Linked DNA regions of Homo sapiens: regions 1 and 3 are each linked to region 2. The links come from fine-mapping of genetic effects on gene expression. A gene starts in region 2. Each other region holds a variant in brackets. All regions are shown on one strand. Distances are between the middles of the regions.

What was found.
Region 1: its variant is fine-mapped to the expression of APEH in blood mononuclear cells (TOPMed, PIP above 0.99).
Region 3: its variant is fine-mapped to the expression of APEH in whole blood (TOPMed, PIP 0.96).

Annotation. Positions count from the first base shown.
Region 1 is chr3:49,574,789-49,582,965 of GRCh38, reverse strand. All of the region lies in intron 1 of BSN (bassoon presynaptic cytomatrix protein), which reads right to left. Among named protein-coding and RNA genes, the nearest start is that of BSN, 24 kb to the right of the region's middle. The variant C/TC (reference allele first, on the strand shown) is at 4,346.
Region 2 is chr3:49,670,815-49,678,991 of GRCh38, reverse strand. APEH (acylaminoacyl-peptide hydrolase) reads right to left here and starts at 4,641. Exons shown (of 22, transcript NM_001640.4): 1 at 4,579-4,641; 2 at 4,371-4,503; 3 at 3,683-3,809; 4 at 3,205-3,298; 5 at 3,026-3,101; 6 at 2,773-2,936; 7 at 2,477-2,614; 8 at 2,292-2,383; 9 at 2,175-2,215; 10 at 1,968-2,089; 11 at 1,359-1,419; 12 at 43-140. The coding sequence starts at 4,590. BSN (bassoon presynaptic cytomatrix protein) reads right to left here. Exons shown (of 12, transcript NM_003458.4): 12 at 7,443-8,177. RefSeq lists a silencer at 4,347-4,956.
Region 3 is chr3:50,473,923-50,482,099 of GRCh38, reverse strand. CACNA2D2 (calcium voltage-gated channel auxiliary subunit alpha2delta 2) reads left to right here. Exons shown (of 38, transcript NM_006030.4): 2 at 5,901-5,982. Among named protein-coding and RNA genes, the nearest start is that of CACNA2D2, 26 kb to the left of the region's middle. The variant G/A (reference allele first, on the strand shown) is at 4,519.

The DNA.
Region 1 (8,177 bases), 96 kb after region 2:
TAAATAAATAAATGTAATACACCATATTAATAGAATGAAGGGAATGAAGGGAAGAAACTATATGTTTACCTCAATTGATGCAGAAAAAGCATTTGACAAAAGTCAATACACTTTCATGATTCAAAAGACTTAAGCTAGAAATAGAAGGGAACTTTCTCAATATGATAAGGACTATTTATGAAAAGTTCACAGCTAACATAATACTCAATAGTGAAAAATTAGAAGCTTTCCCTTTACAATCAGAAACAAGACAACGATGTGCAAGGAAGTTTTACCATTTCTATCTAACATAGTACTGGAAGTCCTAGTCAGAGCTATTGGGCAAGAAAAAAAATAAATAAAGGACATCCAAATTGGAAAAGAAGAAGTAAAATTATCTCTACCTGCAGACCACATGATCTTACATGTAGATAACCCTAAACAGGCCACAAAAAAGTTAGAACTAATAAACAACTTCAGCAAAACTGAAGGATATAAAATCAACACACAAAAGGCAGTTCATTTCAGCTGGGCCTGTAGTTCCAGTTCCTCAGTAGGCTGAAGCAAGAGGGTTGCTTGAGCCCAGAAATTTGAGCCTGTAGTGTGTTATGACTGCAAATGTAAATAGCCACTGAACTCCAGCCTGGGCAACACAGCAAGACCCTGTCTTGAAAACAAAAATAGGCAAAGGACTTGAACAGACATTTCTCTAAAGATTTACAAATGGCCAATAAGCCATTGATTAGAAAAATGCAAATCAAAACTACAATAAGATACCACTTCACACTCTTTAGGCTATTACTAAAAACAAACAAAATAAACAGAAAATAACAAGTGTTGACAAGGACGTGGAAAAATTGGAACCCTCATACAATGATGGTGGAAATGTAAAACGGTACAGCTGCTACAGAAAAATTTTTGGCAGCGCCTCGAAAAGCCTAACATAAAATTACCATATGATCCAGGAATTCCACTCTTAGGTTTATATCCAGAGGAAGTAAAACCAGGGACTTGAACAGATACTTGAATGCCAATGTTTATTACACCATTATTCACAATATAGTAGCCCCCACTTATCCTCAGGGGATATGTTCCAAGACCCCCAGTAGATGCCTATATACACAAAGTTTGTTTTTTTTTGTTTTGTTTTTTGGGTTTTTTTTTGAGACAGAGTCTTGCTCTCTCTTCAGGCTAGAGTGCAGTGGCGCGATTTCGGCTCACTGCAACCTCTGCCTCCTGGGTTCAAGCAATTCTCCTGCCTCAGCCTCCCAAGTAGCTGGGACTACAGGCGCGTGCCACCATGCCCAGCTAATTTTTGTATTTTTAGTAGAGACAGGGTTTCACCATGTTGGCCAGGATGGTCTCGATCTCCTGACTTTGTGATCCGCCCACCTCGGCTTCCCCAAGTGCTGGGATTACAGGCGTAAGCCACCATGCCCAGCCTTGTTTTTTCCTACATATACAAACCTATGATGAAGTTTAATATATAAATTAGGCACAATAAGAGATTCACAATAACTAATAATAAAATAGAACAGTTATAACAATATACTGTAATAAAAGCTATATGAATGTGTTCTCTCAAAATATGATTGTACCATACCGTGGGTAACTAAAACCACAGAAAGCAAGACCGCAGATAAGGGGGGACTACTGGAGTCAAAAAGTAGAAACAACCCAAGTGCCCATCAATAAATGGATAGGCCAGGCGCAGTGGCTCATGCCTGTAATTCCAGCACTTTAGGAGGCTGAGGTGGGCAGATCACTTGAGGTCAGGAGTTCAAGACCAGCCTGGCCAACATGGCGAAACCCAGTCTTTACTACTAAAAATACAAAAATTAGCCTGGCATGGTGGCACACTTCTGTAGGCCCAGCTACCTGGGAGGCTGAAGCATGAGAATCACTTGAGCCCGGGAGGCAGAGGTTGCAGTGAGCCAAGATTACACCACTGCACTCCAGCCTGAGTGATGAGAGCAAAACCCTGTCTCAAAAAGAAAAAAAAAAAAAAGTTAACAGGCGCTGAAGAAAGGGGTCAATGGGGAGGTGCTGGTTAATGGTCAGAGTTTGGGGTGATTAAAAATTTTAGAAATAGATAGTGGTGATGGTTGCACAACATGAATCATGAATATACAGTAATTAATGCCACTAAATTGTACACTTAAAATGGTTAAAATGGCAAATTTATGATATTTATATTTTATCACCATTTTTAAAAGATTAATAATGTGACCAGGCACAGTGGCTCATGCCTGTAAATCCCAGCACTTTGGGAGGCAGAGGCAGGAGGATTGCTTGAGTACAGTAGCTCGAGACCAGTCTAGACTATATAGTAAAACCTGATATCTACAAAATATTAAAAAATTAGCCAGACATGGTGGTGCATGACTGTAGTCCCTTTGGGAGGCTGAGATGAGAGGACTGCTTGAGCCCGGGAGGCTGAGATGAGAGGACTGCTTGAGCCCAGGAGGCTGAGGCTGCAGTGCGTCATGATCGCACCACTGCACTCCAGCCTCGGTGACAGAGCAAGATCCTAAAAAAATTTATAATGTAATACGTAATAAACCACTGAATTATACTCTTTAAATGGGTAAATTTTCTGGCATATTAATTATATCTCAATAAAACTGTCTTAAGATTTCATATTAATCTTTCACAAACTCTTCCAAAAAATAGAACAGGATAAAACACTTCTCAACTCATTCCATGAGGCCACAATTACCCTGATATCAAAACCACACATAAATTGGATGTGGTGGCACATGCCTGTAGTCCCAGCTACTCAGGGGAATAAGGTGGGAGGATCACTTGAGCCCAGGAGTTTGAATCTAGCCTCAGGAACATAATGAGACCCTGTATCTAAATAAAATGAAATAAACAAAATAAAATAATCAAATTAAATTTGTAAAAAAACAGACATAAACATCACAAGAAAACTTTAGACCAATATATCTTGTTACTATAGATGCAAAAATTATAAACAACTACTAGCAAAACAAATCCGGTGACATATAGAAAGGATTTAATATAATAACCAAATGAATTTTTCTCAGACATGCAATTATGGCTTAACATCTAAAAAATCAATTAATATAGCATATTAATAGAATGATGGACAAAAACCATCTATCAAGATTACAAAAACTACATGATCATCTTGATAGATGCAGAAAGCATTTCATACCTTTTCCAATTCAATACCTTTTTATGCTTAAAAAAATTTAACAGACTAGAAATAGAAAGGAATTTCAATTTTTTAAAGCGCATCTAGCCAGGTGCGGTGGCTCACACCTGTAATCCCAGCACCTTGGGAGGCCGAGGCTGGTGGATCATGAGGTCAGGAGTTCGAGACCAGCCTGACCAACATGGTGAAACCCTGTCTCTACTAAAAATACAAAAAAAAAAGAAAGAAAGAAAAAATCAGCTGGGCGTGGTGACGGGCGCCTGTAATCTTAGCTACTTAGGAGGCTGAGGCAGGAGAATTGCTTGAACCCTGGAGTCGGAGGCTGCAGTGAGCAGAGATCCTGCCACTGCACTCCAGCCTGGGCAACAGTGCGAGACTCCGTCTCAAAAAAAAAAAAAATTGTAAAGCGCATCTATGAAAAACCCATACCTAAAATCATACTTATTGATAAATGGATAAAATGTGGTACATCCATACAATGAAATATCACTGGGCAATAAGAAGGAAAGAAGTAACTGGCTGAGTGCAGTGGCTCATGCCTGTAATCCCAGCACTTTGGGTGCCTGAGACAGGAGGATCACTTGAAGCCATGAATTTGAGACCAGCCTGGGCAACATAGGAAGATTCTGTCACTTAAAAAAAAAAAAAAAATTAGCCAGGCATGGTGGTGCATGCCTGTAGTCCTAGCTGCTTGGGAGGCTGAGGTGGGAGGATCTCTTGAGCCCAGGAGTTTGAGGTTACAGTAAGCCATGATCATACCACTGTACTCCAGCCTCCATGTCCTCTGGGTGACAGAGTAAGATTCCCTCTCTAAACAAATAAATGAATAAAGGAATGAAGTGCTGATACACACTACATCTTACATCCTGGATGAGCCTTGGAAAACACACTAAGTGAAAGAAGCCAAACCCCCAAAACACACATTGCATGATTCCATTTATATGAAATGTCCAGAATAGGCAAATCTAGAGAGGTGGATAGTAGATTAGTGGTTACCTTAGGCCTGGAGGATAGATAGAGGGGGGAAGAATGGAAAGTGACATTTTGGGTATGGGGTTTCTTCTTGTGGGTGATGAAAATGTTCTCAAATTGTAGCTTTGGGCCAGGTGCGGTGGTTCACACCTGTAATCCCAGCACTTTAGGAGGCCGACACGGGTGGATCACGAGATCAGGAGATTGAGACCA[C/TC]ATGGCTAACACGGTGAAACCCCATCTCTACTAAAAATACAAAAAATTGGCCGGGCAAGGTGGTGGGCACCTGTAGTCCCAGCTACTCGGGAGGCTGAGGCAGGAGAATGGCGTGAACCCAGGAGGCGGAACTTGCAGTGAGCTGAGATCGCACCACTGCACTCCAGGCTGAGCGACAGAGCGAGACTCCGTCTTATAAAAAAAAAAAAACTGTAGCTTTGGTTGTAGAACTCTAAGTGCACTAAAAACCATTGGATGGCACAGTTAAAATGAGTGAATTCTATGGTAAGTGAATTATATCTCAGAAAGATATTTTTAAAAGAGTAACTAGCCAGGCACAGTGGCTTGTGCCTATAATCCCAGTTACTTGGGAGGCTGTGGCAGCATTGAGGGCAGGAGTTTGAGACCATCCTAGGTGGGCAACAAGGACGGTCCTGTCTTTAAGAAAAGGATAGCCGAGCCTACAGCCCCCAAATATGCAATATTCGTTTCTAAATTGTAAGCATGTATTAGTGTGCTAATGTATTAAGCATCCACAAAATTAGAAAATAACAAGTGATGTTTAAAATGAAAAAAGAAAACTTAGGTGTGAAACCTGTAATGATTTAAATGCCTTTCACTGCTGGGAATCAGGACAGTAACCCCGCTACCCCCAGCAGTTCTCAGCTCACTCTATGTAGCAGGCTCTTCCTTTACATAATACCTGCCTAACAACCACACAGGTGGGTATTCTTATCATTTCCATTTTTTCCAAGAAAACTAAAGATTAAAGAAACAAAGCAAGCTGACGCGTTGGCTCATGCCTGTAATTCCACCACTTTGGGAGGCCGAGGCGGGTGGATTACTTGAGGTGAGGAGTTTGAGACCAGCCTGGGCAACATGGTAAAACCCCATCTCTACTAAAAATACAAAAATTAGCCAGGCATGGTGGTGCATGCCTGTAATCCCAGCTACTTGGGAGGCCGAGGCAGGAGAATCGCTTTAACCTGGGAGGTGGAGGTTGCAGTAAGCCATGATCATGCCACTGAGCTCCAGCCTGGGCGACAGTGCGAGACTCTGTCTCACAAAAAAAAAAAAAGAAAGAAAAGAAAAGAAAAAAGAAACAAAGCAGCTGAAGGTCAACAGAAAAACAGGCAGCAAGGCTAGGACCTGGCCTGGGAACTCCTGGCCTCCAAGCCCTGCTCTCACAATCTCAACCCTCTGAAATGAAGTGCTTCCTCTGAAATGCACCAAGAAGGCCAGTTCCTAGGAAACATGTCTCCTAGCTGTTTGCCATTTCATAGAAGATAAAAAATGTTCCCAGTAGGGTAGAATTTGAGTTAAAACCCAGGAACAAACTCTTGTAATTTGATTGCCTAGAAATTCAAAATTCATATTCCTGGGGTAAATTTAGAGGCAGAAGCCTCTCACAAGCCATAGGGAAACAAGCAAGATAGCGAAGAAATTCGGGAGCAGGACATAATTAGTAGCCAACATTAAGTACTGCCTAGAACAGTGTTTGGCATGTAACAGGTGCTCAATACATATTTGTTGAATAAATGAATGACTCCAAGCACTATCGTGCCCTGGAAAGGAGGTCTGACCCAAGGTGGAGATGGACTGCACTAGAAAAAAATTTCAAATTCCAAACACCAAAACCTTTGGAGAAGAGTTCCAGAGAGATGGGAACCACCCTCCTTCCGGATTGGGGTTGAGTCTCTGAAGGGACACAGGCAGCATATACCAATGTAGGGCACCATCTGGCATCAAGAAGAAAGGCAGGATGCTGGCTGCAAATGACTACTCATGCTGCAATGGCCCTGCTCCCAGGGAACCTCTGAAAGCAGTCTTCTGCTCAGATGAGTATGAGCCTGAGCAAGGCAGACTGCCCAGATATGAGGGTATGAATAAAGAAAGTGAGGCCATGCTCAGTGGCTCACGCCTGTAATCCCAGCACTTTGGGAGGCTGAGGTGGGTGAATCACCTGAGGCCAGGAGTTCAAGACCAGCCTGGCCAACATGGTGAAACCCCATCTCTACTAAAATTTCAAAAAATTAGCCGAGCATCATGGTGGGTGCCTGTAATCCTAGCTACTTGGGAGGCTGAGGCAGAAGAATCACTTTAACCCAGGAGATGGAGGTTGCAGTGAGCTGAGATCGTGCCACTGCATTCCAGCCTGAGTGACAGAGCAAGACTCTGTCTCAAAAAAAAAAAGAAAAAAGAAAAAAGAAAAAAAAAGAAAAGTGAATTCACACCTCTTACCAAGGAAGAAACAGGGAATTTCCCAGATATTCCTGCATTCAAGAGACAGCCCTGGCCAGAAAGGGAGACAAGAGCCTGGAAGCTCCCTGGAATCCAAAGGCAGAACCTAGGTGACAAGGCCACTGTCCTCCCCAAGCAGGATGCTGCTGCAGCTCACAGTGCCCTCAGAGATGGAGCAAGTAGGAATCCAGCTAGAACAGAAGATATAGTGGTTTACTTGGAGATTCACCTGGGACACAGGAGTACCCAACAGCCCCAAAAGGCACCAGCGGTTACTCTAATTCAGTAAGAGACAACACCTTGTCTCTTACAAAAGTTATCTGGGACCAAAACAGCTAATTCTCTGAAAAGTGGGAGGGTGGGGAGAAGTATCTCCCGTATTGTTCAGTGAAAAAAGCAAGGTGCAAAGCAATGCATTTAGTATGATCTTTCTTCAAAAAAGTATGCGTGTGTATATTCACAATAGGTTCACAGATATAAATGCATATTTCTAGGATCTTCTAAAAAGATCCTATAATCTTCTAAAAAGATCCTAGAAATATGCCCAGAAAAGTAATAATGCTGGAAAAGGAAGGGGCAGTGGAAGTTGACCCAAGGTGGAGATGGACTGCACTAGAAAAAAAGGGGCAGTGGACGTTGTACTTCAATATATGACTGAATTGTTTGAATATTACTCCAAGAATGTGTCTGTGTCTTACTTGTATATATATATATATATATACACACACACACACATATATATACATATATATACTATATATATACACATATATATGTATATATATTTGACTCTGTCTCAAATATATATATACGCATATATATTTACATCTATACACACATATATTTACATATATACACACATATATTTACATATATATACACACACATATATATTTACATATATACACATATATATATTTACATATATACACACATATATATTTACATATATATACACATATATATATTTACATATATATACACACATATATATTTACATATATATACACACACATATATATATTTGAGACAGAGTCTCACTCTCTTGCCCAGGTTAGAGTGCAGTGCTGCGATCTCGGGTTACTGCAACCTCTGCCTCCCGGGTTCAAGTGATTCTCCTGCCTCAGCCTCCCTAGTAGCTGGGATCACAGGTGCCCACCACCACGCCCGGCTAATTTTTGTATTTTTAGTAGAGATGGGATTTTGCCATTTTGCCCAGGCTGATCTTCGGCAACTCAAGCCTGACCTCAAGTGATCTGCCCGCCTTGGCATCCCAAAGTGCTAGGATTACAGGCGTGAGCCATCACGCCCGGCCTTACTTGTATAATTTTTTAAAATTTTAAGCCAAAAGAAAAAATTCCAGAAGAGTCTCATCAACATAGTCAAAACTCAAAAGTACTGACATACCAGAACTCAGAAGAGTAATATAAAAAAGGGACACCAGCTGGGTGCGGTGGCTCATGCCTGTAATCCCAGCATTTTGGGAGGCCAAGGCAGGCGGATCACTTGAGGTCCGGAGTTCAAGACCAGCCTGGCCAACATGGTGAAACCCCATCTCTACTTAAAAAGAAAAAAATAAAAATTAGCTGAG
Region 2 (8,177 bases):
TGACCACAGGGGCTGCCCCTCAACACAATCAGCGTCCCTCACCTGCCGGCTGCGCTGAGCCGAGTCAAAGACCACTCTCTGGCTGTCAGCTGACCAGCATCCCAAAGGCAGAAGGCTGCAGTAGATCCCAGAGAAGTTCTCTGTAAAGATAGGAGGGCTGAGGCTGCATCCAGGAGTGGAGGTAGGGAGGGTAGTCTACAAGGAAGGCTAGGGTACTGGGGAATTCACCCAGGGCCCTACTCAGGCACCAGTCAGGCCCCTGCAGCTTGTAGCACACATGGGGGCACGCTACGCGATGAGGAGCTGCCTGAGTAGGTGGCTGAGGGGCAGAGGCCTCTTGGGACCCAGAGAGGACCCAGAGAGGCAGAGCTCAAGAGCTCCAGAGAGAAACCATGGGTGCTCAGAGGAAAAGCACTTGCTCTCCTGAGTAATTCCAGTTGAACCCAGGTAGGTACCAGGTGCTTTAACCAAGATATCATCTGTCCGTCTTATCTCCACTGTGGTGCTTAGCACAGCGCTTGGCACAGGGGGCTCAGTAAATCCTACCCTTTAATATCATCACTCACTTAACACTCACTATGATCCTATGAGGCAGGCAGACACAATCACCCCTCCATGAAGAAATGGGAGCTCAGGGAGGCCAGGACCCTGTCTGAGGACACAGCTAATTTAGGGCAGAGCTGGGATTCATACTAGGTTCCCACCACTGCATCCCTGCAACCCAAAGAGAAGACAAAGAGGCTATCCCTTGTCCACTGAACTCCTGGAACTGACCGGGTGGCCTGAGAAAACAAGAGACTCATCCTTGAGATGGTCCAGGAGGATCCAAGCAGAGCTATCAACACTCGAGACGGGAGCCTCTCAGCCAAGAGCCACCCTCCTGAAGACCCAGCTGACTTCAGGGCTTAGACTGGACAAAGGTTGCTGGGGTTAGGATGGTGGATGGGATAATATCATGCCCTCGGGTCCAGAGCCTCTCGAGTGTGACATTCCAACCTAGTGCACTTCCTGAGACCCACTTGAAGGAGTCATGGTTTTGGTTTGAACCAGCCATTGGAAAAATAAGAAAACTCTAATTATGACCTGCAGCACAGGAAATAATACATCATCAACTTGGGCCACTCTGATCTCAGCTTGGTCCTACCACTCCTTGCTATTGAACTGTTCCCTACGGTGACAGCCCCGCTCCCTATGGTGACAGCCCCGCTCCCTGAGGATGCTGGGCATAAGGCTGGCCCAGCAGGGAGGTAGGGCCCTCAGAAGGAACCTAGGAAAGAAGAACGGGGCAGGGATGCAACAGACGGCAGGAAAGCAGAGCTACAGGCCCCACTGCACCCACCCAGCCAGGTATGCCTTACCTCCCAGCTGCCGAGGCACAACATCTACCACCACTGAGGTAACCTTGGTATACCAGTCATACTGCAAGAGAACACAATGGTCAGGTCCAGTAGGGGACAGGCAGTTCCCTTAGGGCACAGTGCCCTGTGCCTATCCCCTTTTGCCTCAGGTAGCCCCAGGAGATGGGGGAACTGGAATAAGCCTGATGTATCTCTTTTCTGGTGACCTGGACCAGATGCCCAAGGGGCCTCAGATAGGCATGTCCCTCTGACTTTTACCAGGGGCCCAGAGCTCTTCCTGGGGAGGGTCTGGGATTGTGTAACTCCCCACTATATCCCAGCCCCTTGCAGAGCCTGGCTACATGCAGTTGAGAGCCAAGGGGAGGAGCATTCTTGCAGACGAGCATTCTCTCAAGGTGGAATGCCCCAACAGTGCAAAGCTCTCCATGGCAGCACTCTCAACCTCTAGGCCCTCCTTGAGAGGACAGGCAGAACTCACACCGCTGCTGCATTGAGGACAGAAGGGCACCTACTGAGGGCCTATGGGGAGATGATACTGGCCCTTCAGCTCTCATCCACCATCCCATCTTCTTGCTGACCACCCTCCCATCCCTGCCACCTCCAGCTCACCAGGCACAGCTGGCTGCATTGGTGATGGGGGATCAGAGATGGGTACTGCAGGTAGACAATGCGACATTGGTCTGGGCTCAGCCGGGGAGAAGAGACAGCCAGGGAGTCATCCGAGAGGAGCTCTGGGCCAGATGGAAACATGAGCATCACGCAGGCTGGCAGGGCCAACATGTGTCAGCAAAGCACAGGTGGGCATCAGCCACTTACCACACTTCCCCCCGATGAGGTCCACATAATACAGGGCTGACCTGGAACCACGAGACAGACACTCAGTCTCAAGGCCAGCTGGGCTGCAAGGCCCCTTGCCTTGCCCCACTCCCTCACCTGCGATTGGTGCAAAAGCGGATGCCCAACCGGAAGGGCTCATGCCACCAGCCCACAAACACCACACCAGCATCTCCAGGGGCCCAAAATGCCTGTAAACAGGATCAAAGGGCAGGAGTGAGCAAGGGGTGGTAGCTCAAGAAGGGTCCCAGACTCCAGGGGGGACACAGGCTGTTGCTGCTGACCTGTCCAGGGGACACATTCTCAGGGACCCCCTCAAGCACAGAGATGTTGCCACTCTCGACATCCAGCACGCAGAGCACAGGGATGCTTTTGGAAACCATGTTTTCTCCCCAGTCTTCATAAAACACAAACTGATCCCCCTGAGAACACAAGATACTCAATGCCCAGCCTGTCTATAGGACCTGCTCTGCTTCCTAAAAGCTAGTGCCTCCCCAGGTCTGACAGGCACAGTATGGGAAGGGAGCACACTGAGCCCCAGGGCTGCCCTGCCGGGCCTTCGTGGATTGACCACGAGCACCTTGATGGCTTGGTCTGGCTTCTTCAGCCTGGCTATCTCATCATCGCTGGCACTGACGTCCAAGGCTTTGGTCTGAAAGAAGGACTCGGCCTTGGGGCGCTTCTTCTCTGCCACATACAACAAGTGTGTCTCCGAGTGCGACCAGGACAGGCAGCCAAAGCAGTCTGGGTGCAGGGAGGGCCAATCAGGGGGGGCCCAGGGCTACGGCTACCCCTCCTGTCCACCCTGCCTGCTCACCAGCCAGATGCCTCACCATCCTCATAAACAGGCCCATGTTTCTCCAGCGCTGACAGGTTGAAGCTCTTGAGCTTCCGGTTCTTCTCCCAGACCTGAGGACATCTGGGCATTAGGCTGTTTGCCCGCTAACAGAGCCTTATCTGTGGGGCAGAGCCTCTCTCTTGTCACCCACTACCTGGTCCCATGCAGACTCACCTCCAGGAACTGCTTCTCTTCCCCAGGGCCCGTGCCTCCAGCCTTGCGCAGCACAGCTTTCATGGTGCCTGAAGGAGACTCTCTGCTCAGCAGTCTGTGGACATGGGGTAGCACAGGTCAGGATTATCTTGCAATAACCCCTTCCTGCTCCCTACTGGGCACACCTCTTAGGAGAGATTCTTGAGGCTCTGGCCCCACACCAGCTTCTGGAGCACCTCTAGCCCCACCTTGCCTTTCCTCCCTGAGGCAGAGACTCTACTCTCTGCAACTCCCCAGGCCACCATGGGCTCTAGTCCAGGCTGAGTTTGGAGCAAGCTTCCAGTGCTTATCAGGCCATGTCACCAGAAACTGAATGAGCTCCCAAGGGGGCAAGAACCTGGCTGCTGGCCTCCCTTCTAGGCACATGGTGAGCATTCATAAAAGGCTTGCATTGCGGACGGCTGTGGCCTTGCCCACAAGCTTCCTCCCTCAAACTTACTCCCCCCGGGTCTCCACACTGTTGCCTGCAGGTCCTGCAAACACCACTGAGTCCCCGTCATGGAACACCAGGTATTGGCGGCAGAATCGAATGTTCTCCATGCGTTCCAGGTCCCTCTGGGTCCACTCTGTGAGGGGAGGCATGAGACTGCTCACCTTGTCTTGGCTACTCCTGGCTACTGCCCCCAGCCCCACCTGACCCAGGAAGGCCTAGATCTATCTTCCCCAATCTCTCAATCTGTCTCCAGACACTGACACCCTGGCTGCAGGCTGGACAACACTTGGCCACAACCCTAGTCCAGGCCTCCAGAGCCTGAGCTGACAGCCTCTTTGAGAGAACCCCCTAGTAACCCCAGCATCCACCCTGGAATCTTGAGGGCAGCCTGGCATGTGTATGGGATGGCGTGTTGGTGGAGAGCCCTACAAGGTCCACGCCCTGAGCCCAGGTTTGACTTCTACCCCTACGCCGTCATCTCGTGCACTCATGGCCGCCATTCGATAACGCCCCGCACGCCCCCTCCCCCCCTCCACACACCTGTGTGCAGGGACCTGTGGGAGTGTAACCTCCAAGTCCAGGCCGGCTCCCTATATACCCTTACGCACTGTCAAGCAGCGAGCCCTCCACACCCCCTTCCTTCCCACCCCAGTGCGCGACCCCGTCGCCAGCCAGTTCCCCTTCGCACACACACCAGTGTGCACCGTCCGGTATTGGCCGCCGTACTGCGTGGTGACCTCCGGGCCCAGGCAGGCGGCGCTCAGCGCGGGCTGGCGGCTAAGGCCCCGATACAGAGCCGCCGCCTCCTCGGGCTCGCTCAGCAGCACCTGCGCAGGGGACACACCAGGGTCAGGCCCGGCCCGGGCTGCAGGGACCACGGGGACCGCGGGCCGAGCCCTCACCTGACGTTCCATAGTCTCCTCTCTGCCGCCGGGGCGAGGCGGGGCGTGCTCGCGCCCGGAAGTGAGGCTTCCGGGGGCGGAGCCTGGGACGGCCCGGGCTGTCTCCGCCCCTGCCCTGCGGCAATCTGTGAGGGGCGGGGCCTTCGGCTAATGGGTGAGGACCGTTGGCAGGGGGCGGGCCTTGACGGTGAGAGGACCCGGCCTGGGAGCGAGAAGTCCTGGGTGGGTGAGAGCAGGGGTCTCGCCAGGGGCGGACTAGCCAAGTGGGGGGCGGGGCCGTGGGCTGAGTCCTGGGCCTCTTACCGAGGGGCGAGGCGTTGGATCTCGGAGGAGAGGGGGCGGCCCTGTGGAAGCGGAACCCGGGAGCCCGGCTTCGGGGAGGGTAGAAGGGCCTACGAGAGAAGGGGTTGAGGGGGTGCTGCAAGGCGGAAGCAGCGCGGTCGGACGGGCATGGCCCAAGCACGCGAAGGGCGGGGCCCGAGGGGAATGGGACCAATGAGTCTTTGAGGATGAAGGGCAAGGCGGGCGGGTCCGGATTGGAGCCCTGCGAGGAATGTGGAGCCGGGAGCCTGTGAGCGTGAGCGTGAGCGTGAGCGTGAGCGTGAGCGTGAGGGTGAGGGTTGGGCGGGGCGGAGCCGGCCGCAGCGTGGATCTCCCGCGGCTCTGGGGCTGACTGTAGGGTTCCTTCGGGTCCACCACGAGGCCGACATTCACTACACAGTGCCAGGCCCTGCCCTGGAGGGAGTTCCACGCAGACGAAGAAGAGAAGGGCCAGGGTCCGGGCGGAGGGCGCGAAGCAAAGCCCTGGGGTGCGGGGCAGAGGGGCGGGTGCCAACTCTTAGGGTGCTGCCCGGACTTATCAGTCGCCAGGCCTGCCGCAAGAGCTATCTATCCCCGCAGCCTTTACCCAGCCTTCTCAGTGGCACCTTGTTGGGGACCGTGAGCTGGTGGGTCCCTGCCTTCCTCCCCAGGCCTCACCCTGAGCTCTTGGGTGTGAAAGGCCTGGTGGGCTCAGACTCCACCCAGGACCAGGGAGCTTCCTGTGGAAAAAACCTAGGCAGGCAGGTTCCCTGTGCACGTGGTACAGGATTGGCTGGGCTAAGGTGCCAACAGAGATCAGGAGAGGCTGGACAGTAAGGATGTTCCCTCCATATACCTGAGTCTGGCTGGTCTTCCACATTCAGGGCCCTGGCTCCCTGCTCCATGGCGTGCTTGTGATTGAGAGTCCACTTGTCTGGCCTGTAGCTTCCCCTTTCCCATCAGCCGCATCATTACTTACTCAAGATAACTAGTTAAGTAAAAAAAAAAAAAAAAAAAAAAAAAAAAGTCCCGGCCGGCCGGGCGCGGTGGCTCACGCCTGTAATCCCTGCACTTTGGAAGGCCGAGGCGGGCGGATCACGAGGTCAGGAGATCGAGACCATCCTGGCTAACACGGTGAAACCCTGTCTCTACTAAAAATACAAAAAATTAGCTGGGCATGGTGGCAGGCGCCTGTAGTCCCAGTTACTCGGGAGGCTGAGGCAGGAGAATGGTGTGAACCCGGGAGGCGGAGCTTGCAGTGAGCCGAGATCGCGCCACTGCACTCCATCCTGGGCGACAGCCAGAGTCCATCTTAAAAAAAAAAAAAAAAAAGTGCCAGGCGCGGTGGCTCACGCCTATAATCCTAGCACTTTGGGAGGCTGAGGCGGGTGGATCACCTGAGGCCAGGAGTTCGGGATCAGCTTGGCCAACATGGAGAAACCCTGTCTCTACTAAAAATACAAAAATTAGCCGGGCTGGGTGGCACGCGCCTGTAATCCCAGCTACTCGGGAGGCTGAGGCAGGAGAATCGCTTGAACCTGGGAAGTGGAGGTTGCAGTGAGCCGAGATCATGCCACTGCACTCCAGCCTGGGCAACAAGAGTGAAACTCCGTCTCAAGAAAAAAAAAAAAAAAGAGTCCCAACTTTCTGACGCCACTGCATTTGTCAGTATGTACAGGACTGTATCAAGGCCAGAAACAGGAGTAGAATGAGTGGCCCCAGCCACCAATTTGGGTGGAAAGATTGGAAAATAGGATGTTCATCAAGCATTGTTTATAATAGGAACACTGGGAACATAGTGCCTGTTCCTTAGATTGTGTGTGGTAGACTGGCTATGAACTAATGGTGTATCTCTCTGGAGGTTGAGCACTGGAAGACGAACATTTAAGTACCTGAAATAAACGTGGAAATAAACAGAAAGCTAGAAAACAGGATATATTGCACCTTCTGGCTTCTGTTTAAAATGAAGACTGGAACAACAAACAGGAAAGAAGGACACGCATCAAAATGTTAATTCTGGGGAGAGGGCCAGAGGTGAAGCTGGGATTCCTGTTTATCTGTGTTAAAAAAAAAAAAAAAAAAAAAAAAGGTCTAGCAACTCTGGGTGACTTCGGTAAGGAGGTACTCCTGACCATCTGAGGAAGGCCTAAGGTCTGGCAGCCGGTGAGAGTTTGGGGGTTGGAAAATTCGGAGCAAGGCAGAGAGGTGTAGGGCTTGTTGGCAGCACCAGGGGGCAGCACTTGTTCACTGCCTCCCTGGAACCAGGTCCCAGAAAGCTGTGTATGCAGCCAACACACCTGAAGGCCATGGAGGTGCTGTCCCTCAACAGCCTGCGCACTGACTGCCTGCTCCAGGTCCAAGCTTGGGACCTCCCCTTGGGCACCTTTGTGGAGGGCCCATTGTCTTTGGATGGCTTGGTGTGGACTCAGCCCCGTGCTGTGCCAGCACTTCTGCAACTTTGTCCATCCTTTTCCCTTTAACCATGGACAGGATTGTCGCAAATTTGGGGATTTGCTCCTTCAGCTAAGCCTTCCCACTTGAGAAACCATCCCAGAAACAGTCTGTAGGTTGTTTATATCAAGTCCTTTTATTCTGATACCACAGAATTACCTTGTCACAATACAGGGGGAGGGACACTGAAGTACCACGAGTTCTCACAGAGCACAGAAGGACAGCACACAATTCACAAGGTCATGTGGAGGACTCGGGTCATTGCACTTACAACTGTAAACTTGTTTGTTTGACTTTGTACAGCACTCTTCCCCCCTCAAATAAAGAAGGAGAGAAGGAAAGAAAGGGAGAGAGGGAGGAGGAAGGGGAAAGCAAAAACAAGACATGAAAGCTAGAGGAAAAGGTATTGAGTGGCCACCACTCTCCAGGGTAGTGCACTTGGAGAGAAGGAGCTGATTTGACCCCAGAAACTGAATGAGGCAGAAACACACACACACACACACACGCACGCACGCACGCACATACACACATGATCATGTGCATACACATACAATATCTCACGACTGCCATGGCTCTCCAGTGCCACCCCAGTGCACATGGCAGCAGGGCTGCTGGCACCCAGGGAGACAGAGATGGCATCTCCGAGGAGTTTCAGTTGATTAGGCCTGTCCCTCTAACCCTGTTGGAGTCCATGATGACAAGTATTTACAGCATGGGGGTGGGTAAGAGGAGAGCAGACGGGACAACAGGGCAGGACCATGCTGTCCTGGCAAAGGACCTGCCTGGAAAACTCCCTACAGGCTCCAGAAGGCAAGGCATAGTTGCCACCACTGCTGTTCTTTCACTGT
Region 3 (8,177 bases), 800 kb before region 2:
CCTTCAGAAGACTGCAGAGGTGCTGAGGTGGGAGGTAACAGGCCAGTGGAAATAACCAGAATAATTAAGTAGCACTTTATATTTTATAGTTTTTATTTTTATTTTTTGAGACAGTCTCGCTCTGTCACCCACGCTGGAATACAGTGGCATGGCCTTGGCTCAGTGCAGCCTTGACCTCCCAGGCTCAGCGATCCTCCAACCTCAGCCTCCCGGGTAGCTGGGACTACAGGTGTACGATACCACACCCAGATAATTTTTGTATTTTTTGTAGAGACAGGGTTTCACCGTGTTGCCCAGCCTGGTCTCAAATTTCTGGGCTCAAGCAAACTGCCCGCCTGGGGCTTCCAAAGTGCTGGGGTTACAGGGGTGAGCCACCATGCCCAGCCTGCACTTTATTTTAAATTGTTGCCTTCCCCAGAGCTGGGAGAATAATTGGCCAGCCTATCATGAGAGAAGCAAGAGACGTGGGGCCCCGCCATTGCCAAGTTTGCTTCACCGTGCACTTGGCAGCAGTGGCCTTCACTGTGCCTGCTCCCTCACACTGCTCACCTGCCCCAGCCTCCTGCTGTCCTGTCATCCAGCCCTCCTGCTTCCCCTGCTGCCCACCCCTAGTATCCACCCCTCACTCCCTCACGAAGCGCAGCGGCTGAACTGCCAAGCTGAAGGGAAGGCCACAGACTGATTATAGGTGCCCAGTGGAACAGGGTTGATCCAGACAGGCCATCTGGGAGAGGCAGCAGGGCTTTGATGACAAAAAATGCCTCCGTGTGAGTGGTAAGAAGGCCCACAGAGGCAGAGCTCGGGTGTTCCGAGCCCCTTGCTCCCTACCAGGCCTTGACCCTTCCGGGGCCTGCCCCTGTCTGCTCTTGAACAGAGCCCCTCCCCCATCCTTTCTCGCCCCTCTGCTGGGTCCAGCTGCCCACACCCACCCGTGCCCTCTGAGGGTGAACCTGCTGTGTCACCTGTCTCTGGTTTTTTGATTTGTTTAATTATAGATGAGTTTTCTGCATAATTTATTCCAAAAGCCTGGATTATACTGTACAATTAAATCACATTCTGATCAACAACTCCACATATAAAATTAACAACTGGCAACAGTTTAATCTATGCTGCTGCATCTGCACACGGACTCTTCTCCCTTTTCCCCATCCCCTCCTCCCCCTTCCTCCCCCTTCCTCCCCCTTCCTCCCCTTTCCTCCCCCTTCCTCCCCTTTCCTCCCGTTCCTCCCTGTTCCCGTTCCCGTACCCATTCCTCCCCATTCCAACCCCCTTCCTCTTTACCCTCCCCCTCCCCTGAGCATTTGCAGCTGCCCCTAAGCTGGAAGCCCCCACCTGAATGCGATGCAGTTTGACATGCAGCCTCCCCCAGCCTTCTAGCTGGGGTCTCAATGATCCTGTCTGCTAAAGGGGTGCTCAGCTGCAGCTTCTCACCCCACGCACAGATGATGTCACTCCCTTGCCTGTTAGTGATATCCCCTCTCCCTCCCCAACTCCTCTTGGTTCTGAACCATGCCCTGGAAACCAAGGCCTGGCATCCTGCAACTCAGGGTGTCATCTTCTTACCTGCAGAGCTGCCTCAGCCTGCTAGGCCTCTTCTGCAGTGCCCCCTCCCCACAAGCCTCCCCACCCCCCACACAAGCTTTCATAGAAGATGTCCTGAGCCCTCAATAAGTCCTTAGGTCTTAGGGGAGGGGCTGTATTGCATGAGCTGCTAGCCCTCAGGGGACTGTCCAGTAAAAGCCTGTGGATTTGACCATTAAAAACTATTCAGCCAGTCATTATTACCCCTGTTTACCGATGGAAAAGCTGAGGTTCTGAGGGACAGAACTCTTTGAGGTCACACAGCGGCAGAAGTGCCTTTCCCCTGAGGCTTCCCAAAGGCTACAATGTCCTGGAAAGATGGGATCATGGAATAGATGGAGTCAGGACAAGTCTGTTTCTCTTTAAGTATGTGACCCTGTACCCATCCTTACCAGGGGCTTCAATTTTCTTGTCTGGGAAATGGAGCCACAATGTGTTCACCTCCCTAGGGCTGGGCACATTGGAGGACGTGACTTGATCCCTAGTCTCTTGTGCCCACACCAGTCATTAAGCCACTGCAGCCCCTAGATGCCTACATCTCCTCCTGGCCACTCTCCCCTCACTGCCTTGTTAGTTTGGCACTTAGAAGCAATTAGGGATAAGCAGTGTCATCTCAATGAAAAGCATGGAAAATTACAAAGATGTGGGGAGCCAGCAGGTCCACCTCCGTGTTGGGTGTGTGGCCTGTGGGCAACATTGTCTGGTCAGGGAGGCATTGGCTGAGCCAGGCACTTGATTCCAAGCAGAGGGAAGTCTGGGCAGGATTTGATCAGCTTATCTTTGACCCAGTGGGGGCAGGGACATTCCCATGCATCCGTTGTCTTTCCAAGGCCCCCTCCCTTCTGCTGGAGTGAGTACGATTCCCTGGCCAGGGTTGGACCTGGCTTGGTGGGTGGCTTCTCGTCCACAAGGCAGGAACAGTGCAGGTGCATAGTCAACTCCTGGCCCCCTCAGGGCCTCTGTGTCACCCCTTGGAGGTGGCACTGGGACACTGGCGAAGTCCTAGAACCCACAAAGTCACATCTCTGTGACAATGGAATGAATTATTTTCTTTTAACTCTGAGACACACATATTGCCTCCTAATTGAGTTTGATTTAAGTGAATAATCAAAGTAACTTGTTTTCCCTGGCACTGTGCTGATGGGCAATGTGCTAGGGCTTGGGGTCTGCCCAGCAGGTCCAGGATGCCAGGCAAAGGGCTGGAGCCACCTCTAGACCTTGGGAGGACATGTGTGTGGCCTGCTGTGTCATAGCAGGCCAGTTCCTGCAGCCCATAGCAGAGTCTAGAGCTACTCAGCCTCAGGGTGGGAGTAAGGAGACTGTGCGTAAGAGAGAGAGAGACAAGGAGGGAGGGAGAGTGAGCGTGTATATCTTGGGGAAGGATTGGACTTTATCCTAAGACTTGGCTCTTCTAAAAATTATTTTAGTGTTGAAATAGCCTTTTTAGATGAAATGATGATGATTATAATAATGTGTTGTCTGAGCAAAATAAAACTTGGCATCCATGTCTCTTCTCCCAATTAATTTTCTTTTACTTAACTGTGAAATCCTAGAAGCAGGGACCTATAGACATACTAGAAGAGTCAACAGCCTGGGGTGGAATCAGTAATGTGCTGCTGAATGTTTACAATTTGTTCTCCAGGGGGAAAAACATGGTTTCTAGCATTTGCCAATTCCTGTGGTGTAAATATTCCCACCATGACCTATTTCAAGCTCCTCAGGTGATGGTACCAAATGCAGAGTTGGAAAGAGGTGCACAGAATCAGCTTTTGTGAGTCAGCTTTTGTGACTCCAGCACACTTCTAGGGCAAGTCCTGTGTTCACTACTTCCTGGATAGGTGACCTTGTACAGGTCAGTTGAACCCACTATGCCTCAGTTTCCTTATCTGTAAGGTGGGATGATAATGTTTGCTTCTTTGTAAGGACTGAAGCGAGAAAGTAGGTGACATGCTGGCACTGCACCTTGTACGTAGTGGATGCCCTCGCACATAATGAGTCCCAGGAAGGATTGATTGGCATTTTGTTCTCTACACCAGTGAGTGGCTGAGGTCAGGGTCAGGGCCAGGGCAGAGCTAATGGTTCCCTTTGGGGATCAGATCCTCACTCTGCCCATTTGTCTGCCCCCTGCCTGGCTGACTGTGATAGCCCATCCCAACATTAGCCCCCAGGGCTCCATCGCAGGAGCACAAAGGAGCCATCCGCTATGTTGTCCACCCACAACCAGGCCCTGGTGGACAGGGGCCAGGGGTCACGCAGGCTGTCAATTTTCTGCTGCCCTTTGCCCTCCCCAGGCTGGCAGCTGAGGCCTGCTTGCCCTTCTTAGCCCAGCCTGCAGCCTGGCCTCCACCCGCACTCAGGGTTAGATTTTCCCCTGTGGTGGGGAGCGGAGGAGGGAATCCGGCTGTGGCTCAGCCAGCAACAAGCCGAAGCTAATACCTCTTTCTTTTGATGTTGATTTTTTTTTTTTCCATCATGGTCCTGACATTCAGCTTGGCAAATTGCAATTAGTGATCTGCCTGCCTCCTGCTCCGAGTTCCCATGCCAACCGACCCAGGCACATACAGTTGCATGGGCCCAGCCCCTTAGTCACAGGCCTGAGTGGAGGAGGCAGGGCAGGAGGCCAGGTAGAGGCTTGGGCTCTTCTGATCCATGGAGCCAGAACAGTCCTGGCCCAAGTGGCACTGGAGGAGGCAGCAGGCCCAGGGAGTTGGGACCAGATGCAATCTCCTGTACCCCATGGCTCCCGGGGTACCTCCAGAGGCTGGGGGGCTGGCATCACCCTGCCCCTACTGTACCCTGTGGGCTGTGTTTGACCCATGGCTTATTTAAATCTTCATGGTAACTTTTTTGTGCGCCCTTCCTGGAAAGGTCTTGGTCTGTAAAATGGGAGTGTGTCAAGTGGGATGGAGAAGTTGAGATACCTTTTCAAATGCATGA[G/A]GGCAAAGAGCACCTTTGTGGTTCTGTGTGGTTCTCTCTGGCTGGCCTCTGGCAAGGTCTAGTGTGGTTTTGCTCGCCTGATCTGGCTCTGCTTAAGGGAGTGGGTCATGTATCTGAACCCAGGCAAGGCCTTGCCCCAGACTCCTTCCTTCTTCCAGGTTGTGGGTCTGAGAATAGAGGGCCACGTGACCAACTGTCCATCCTGTCCACTCACAAAGATCCCCATGCAGCGAACACGCTTGACTTACCTATTCTCATGTGTTCTTATAACACCCTGAAAGGTGGCCCCAAATTATCCCCGTATTCCAGAGAAGGAAGCTGAGATGGAAATGGGTTAAAACAATCCCAGGGTGGGCCGGGCACGGTGGCTCATGCCTATAATCCCAGCACTTTGGGAGGCTGAGACAGGCGGATCACAAGGTCAGGAGATCGAGACCATCCTGGCTAACACAGTGAAACCCCATCTCTATTAAAAATAGAAAAAAATAGCCAGGCGTGGTGGCGGGCACCTGTAGTCCCAGCTACTCTGGAGGCTGAGGCGGGAGAATGGCATGAACCCTGGAGGCGGAGCTTGCAGTGAGCAGAGATCGCACCACTGCACTCCAGCCTGGGCGACAGATCGAGACTCTGTCTCAAAAAAAAAAAAAAAAAAGAAAAAGAAACAAAGAGCAATCCCAGGGTGGTACCAGTGTGAGGGAGACCTGCTCAGGATGTGGCTCAGGTGGATTGTGAGGCAGGATGGTCTGCAGTGGACTCCTGAGTGGGTGATTCCTGCTGGACATCCAGCAATGAGCCTCGGGTAAGCGTCTGTCTACCAGGGTGTTGGATAGGCAAGGGCTGCCTAATCTGGAACTCTCCACGTCCACTGCTCAGGTGAGACCTAGAGGGGCAGGGACCTGCCCAGTTACACAATGACTTGGTGACAGCAGTGTTCCGTCCCCTTCTCTAGGCCCCACCTGGCCTTGGGAACAGGAGGCTCCAAGATCCAGCAGACCTCACTCCCTGAGGCTCCCTCATGTCTCCCTCCTCCCTGGTGTCCAGAAGTCCCCAAGTTCAGAGCAGCTACATCAAGGGCTGGCTCTTCACAATGAAAAGTAGCCTCACTGCAGGCTTCTCTGAGCTGCTGAGCTCCCTCAGCACATCCACAATGCAATCCTCTCTCCTCCTCGCCACCCCACAGTGCATGAGGAGCACCTGGGCCACTGGGTCTGGACTTCAAAGGGGAATCGCAGGTGCTTGCTGGTTCCTTGCTGTGGGTCCTCCTCTAGTGAAAATTGGGGTGTGAGTGGATAGTTGCCCCCAGTGCCCCCGGGTTGGCTGGGGTGGGGCTGTGCAGCTCTGGGCAGGCCCTCCTGACACCTCTCTCCTCTCTCTGCATACAGGATGCAGCACTGGGCCCGGCGTCTGGAGCAGGAGGTCGACGGCGTGATGCGGATTTTTGGAGGCGTCCAGCAGCTCCGTGAGGTGAGCCCGGTGCCACTTGCTGTCTCTTCAGGGACCCTCTTCCAAGGGAAGGGGAAAAGCTTCAGAAATAAGGAGTGAGGAAGATTTGGTTTAATGGAGGTCCTGGTGTGGTGGGACCTGATGGGCCCGTGGGGGCAGGTGGGACATGACTGGATGGGCAGCACTCCTCTGGGGCCTGGCCTGCTCTTCCTGAGGCAACGATCGGAGCCACCACCCGGCTTGGACGATGACCCTGTTGCTGAAAGGGATTTGGAGCTTTTTGGGCTTTCAGGAGGGAGAGGTCTGTGTCTGAGGGACACCTGGGGTGGGAGCCCAGGCCCAGGAGGGGTCAGTGGACGCAGGGGTGCACAGGAGCTGAAGGGATCCAGGAAACAACGGGATGGCCGGTCCATACCAGCCCGAAAGCGGTGCTTGAGGTGCTGTAGCAGGAGACAGTGGAAATCCCATGCCTGGTGGGATGAGGGATCAAGGTGTGGGAGGGGTGATTGATTAGGCACCAGCCACCACATCCATCCTGGGAGATTATGTTAATGTTTGAAATAGTGATGTGAAGAGCAGGCCATCCATCACCCCCGGAAGCTGCAAAATGTGCTGCTGTCAGGCCCCGGGCTCCTGAGCCATTGCTCTCTACGTGGAGATGCAGAGGCTGGGAGGGCCGAGCTCTTGGAGTGATGGAGCTACGACTCTCGGGGTACGTGCAGTCTTTGAGGATCTTGTTGCCGGGGGCTTGGGCCAGGAGGTACTGACCAGAACTGAGCAGGGGATTAAATGGGGGTCTCCCACTGAGAGTTGGCTCGGGAACAGCAGAGTAAGCCAACCTACTGTTGCTGGTTCAGTCAGGAGTCCAGGTCCAGGGTTTGGAGATTATATACCCACTGTGTTCCTGTTGTCCCTGTTGGTCAGGGCCAGGGTCAGCAGATGTAACCTCGGTGGGGCAGGGACCGTAGGGGTTGTCCTCAATCCCTTCCTCATGCTTAGCTTATAGCTGGTGCCCAGGAAGTGGGGGTGGCAGCCAGTGTGTTGACATTGGGTGTGAATGTAGGACCTCTGGCACAGGCTGGGGCTGGTCATGGGTGGCTAAGTACGTGGCAACGCCGTGGGAAGGGAGAGTCCAGGTCTGGAGGTCTGTGTCCTCCCTGCCAGTGGCCCAGCGACACTAAACACCCCTTTCCTGGTTGCTGGGCTTGGATGTCAGCAGCCTCCATCACACTGTCTTCCTGTGAACTCTGAATGACTCAGCCGCACTTGGAGGCCAGCAGAGCTTTCCAGAGAAAGTGCTGTAGAAAAAGCTGTTCCGGAACAGGAGTCAATTTAGGCTCAGGAATAGCACCCAGCACTAACCAGGCTCCAAGTAGCCACTGCCAAGGATAGCTGTGTGGGCTAATGAAGGAATGATAGCTCCCTGATGTGTGCAGCCAGCACCTTTCCAAGTTTCATATCGGGACATAAGCTATACCACATATCAGGAGTTAACGGTACTCCTCCAGTCAATAATCCTTCATGCCTCAAACCTTTAGCTTGAAGATGTTGTTTATTTTATATTCACGGGCAACTCAGGCTCTGAATGTCTGGCAATGAGAAAATAGTGTTCATACGTCATGGCCGAGGTCTGTCTGGACCAGTGAGCTTGCTAGATTCTGAGAACCAGAGATGGAATCCCAGCTCAGCGTACCATCATGTGCCCCTGGGTGAGCCTGGATCCTCTCTGATCCTCATTCTTGACCCATACACAGCTGGGAAGTCTGACCGGAGGATGAAGTGGTGAAAACAGCAATGGACAGGCTGATACAGATACGCCCCTTTTTTGGAAATCAAATTTGAATTTCCCTCATTGATCATTTTCACTCCCAGGGATAATTTCCCTTCCTTTCTCATGGGACTTGAGAGATTCTAGACACTTTCATCAGTGAGCCTGTCTCCCCCACCCTCTCCCTCCCAGCAGTCACCAAGGTGGTCATGCTGCTGGCTTGTAGCAGAGCTGGGGCATGGACCCAGGGCTCCTGACTCCTGTTCCAACGTGCAGCTCCGGCTGTGGCTCCACTTCCCCTCTTGGTAGGGTGGACAAGATGAGCCTGGGGCAGTAGGGAGCTGGGCCAGAGCAGGGCCGTGCTCAGCGTGGCAGGCAGGCAGGCAGAGAAGTGCTGACCTGGCATCCCCGGCTTCTCCTGGCACTCTGGTGGAGTGTCTCTGCCTGC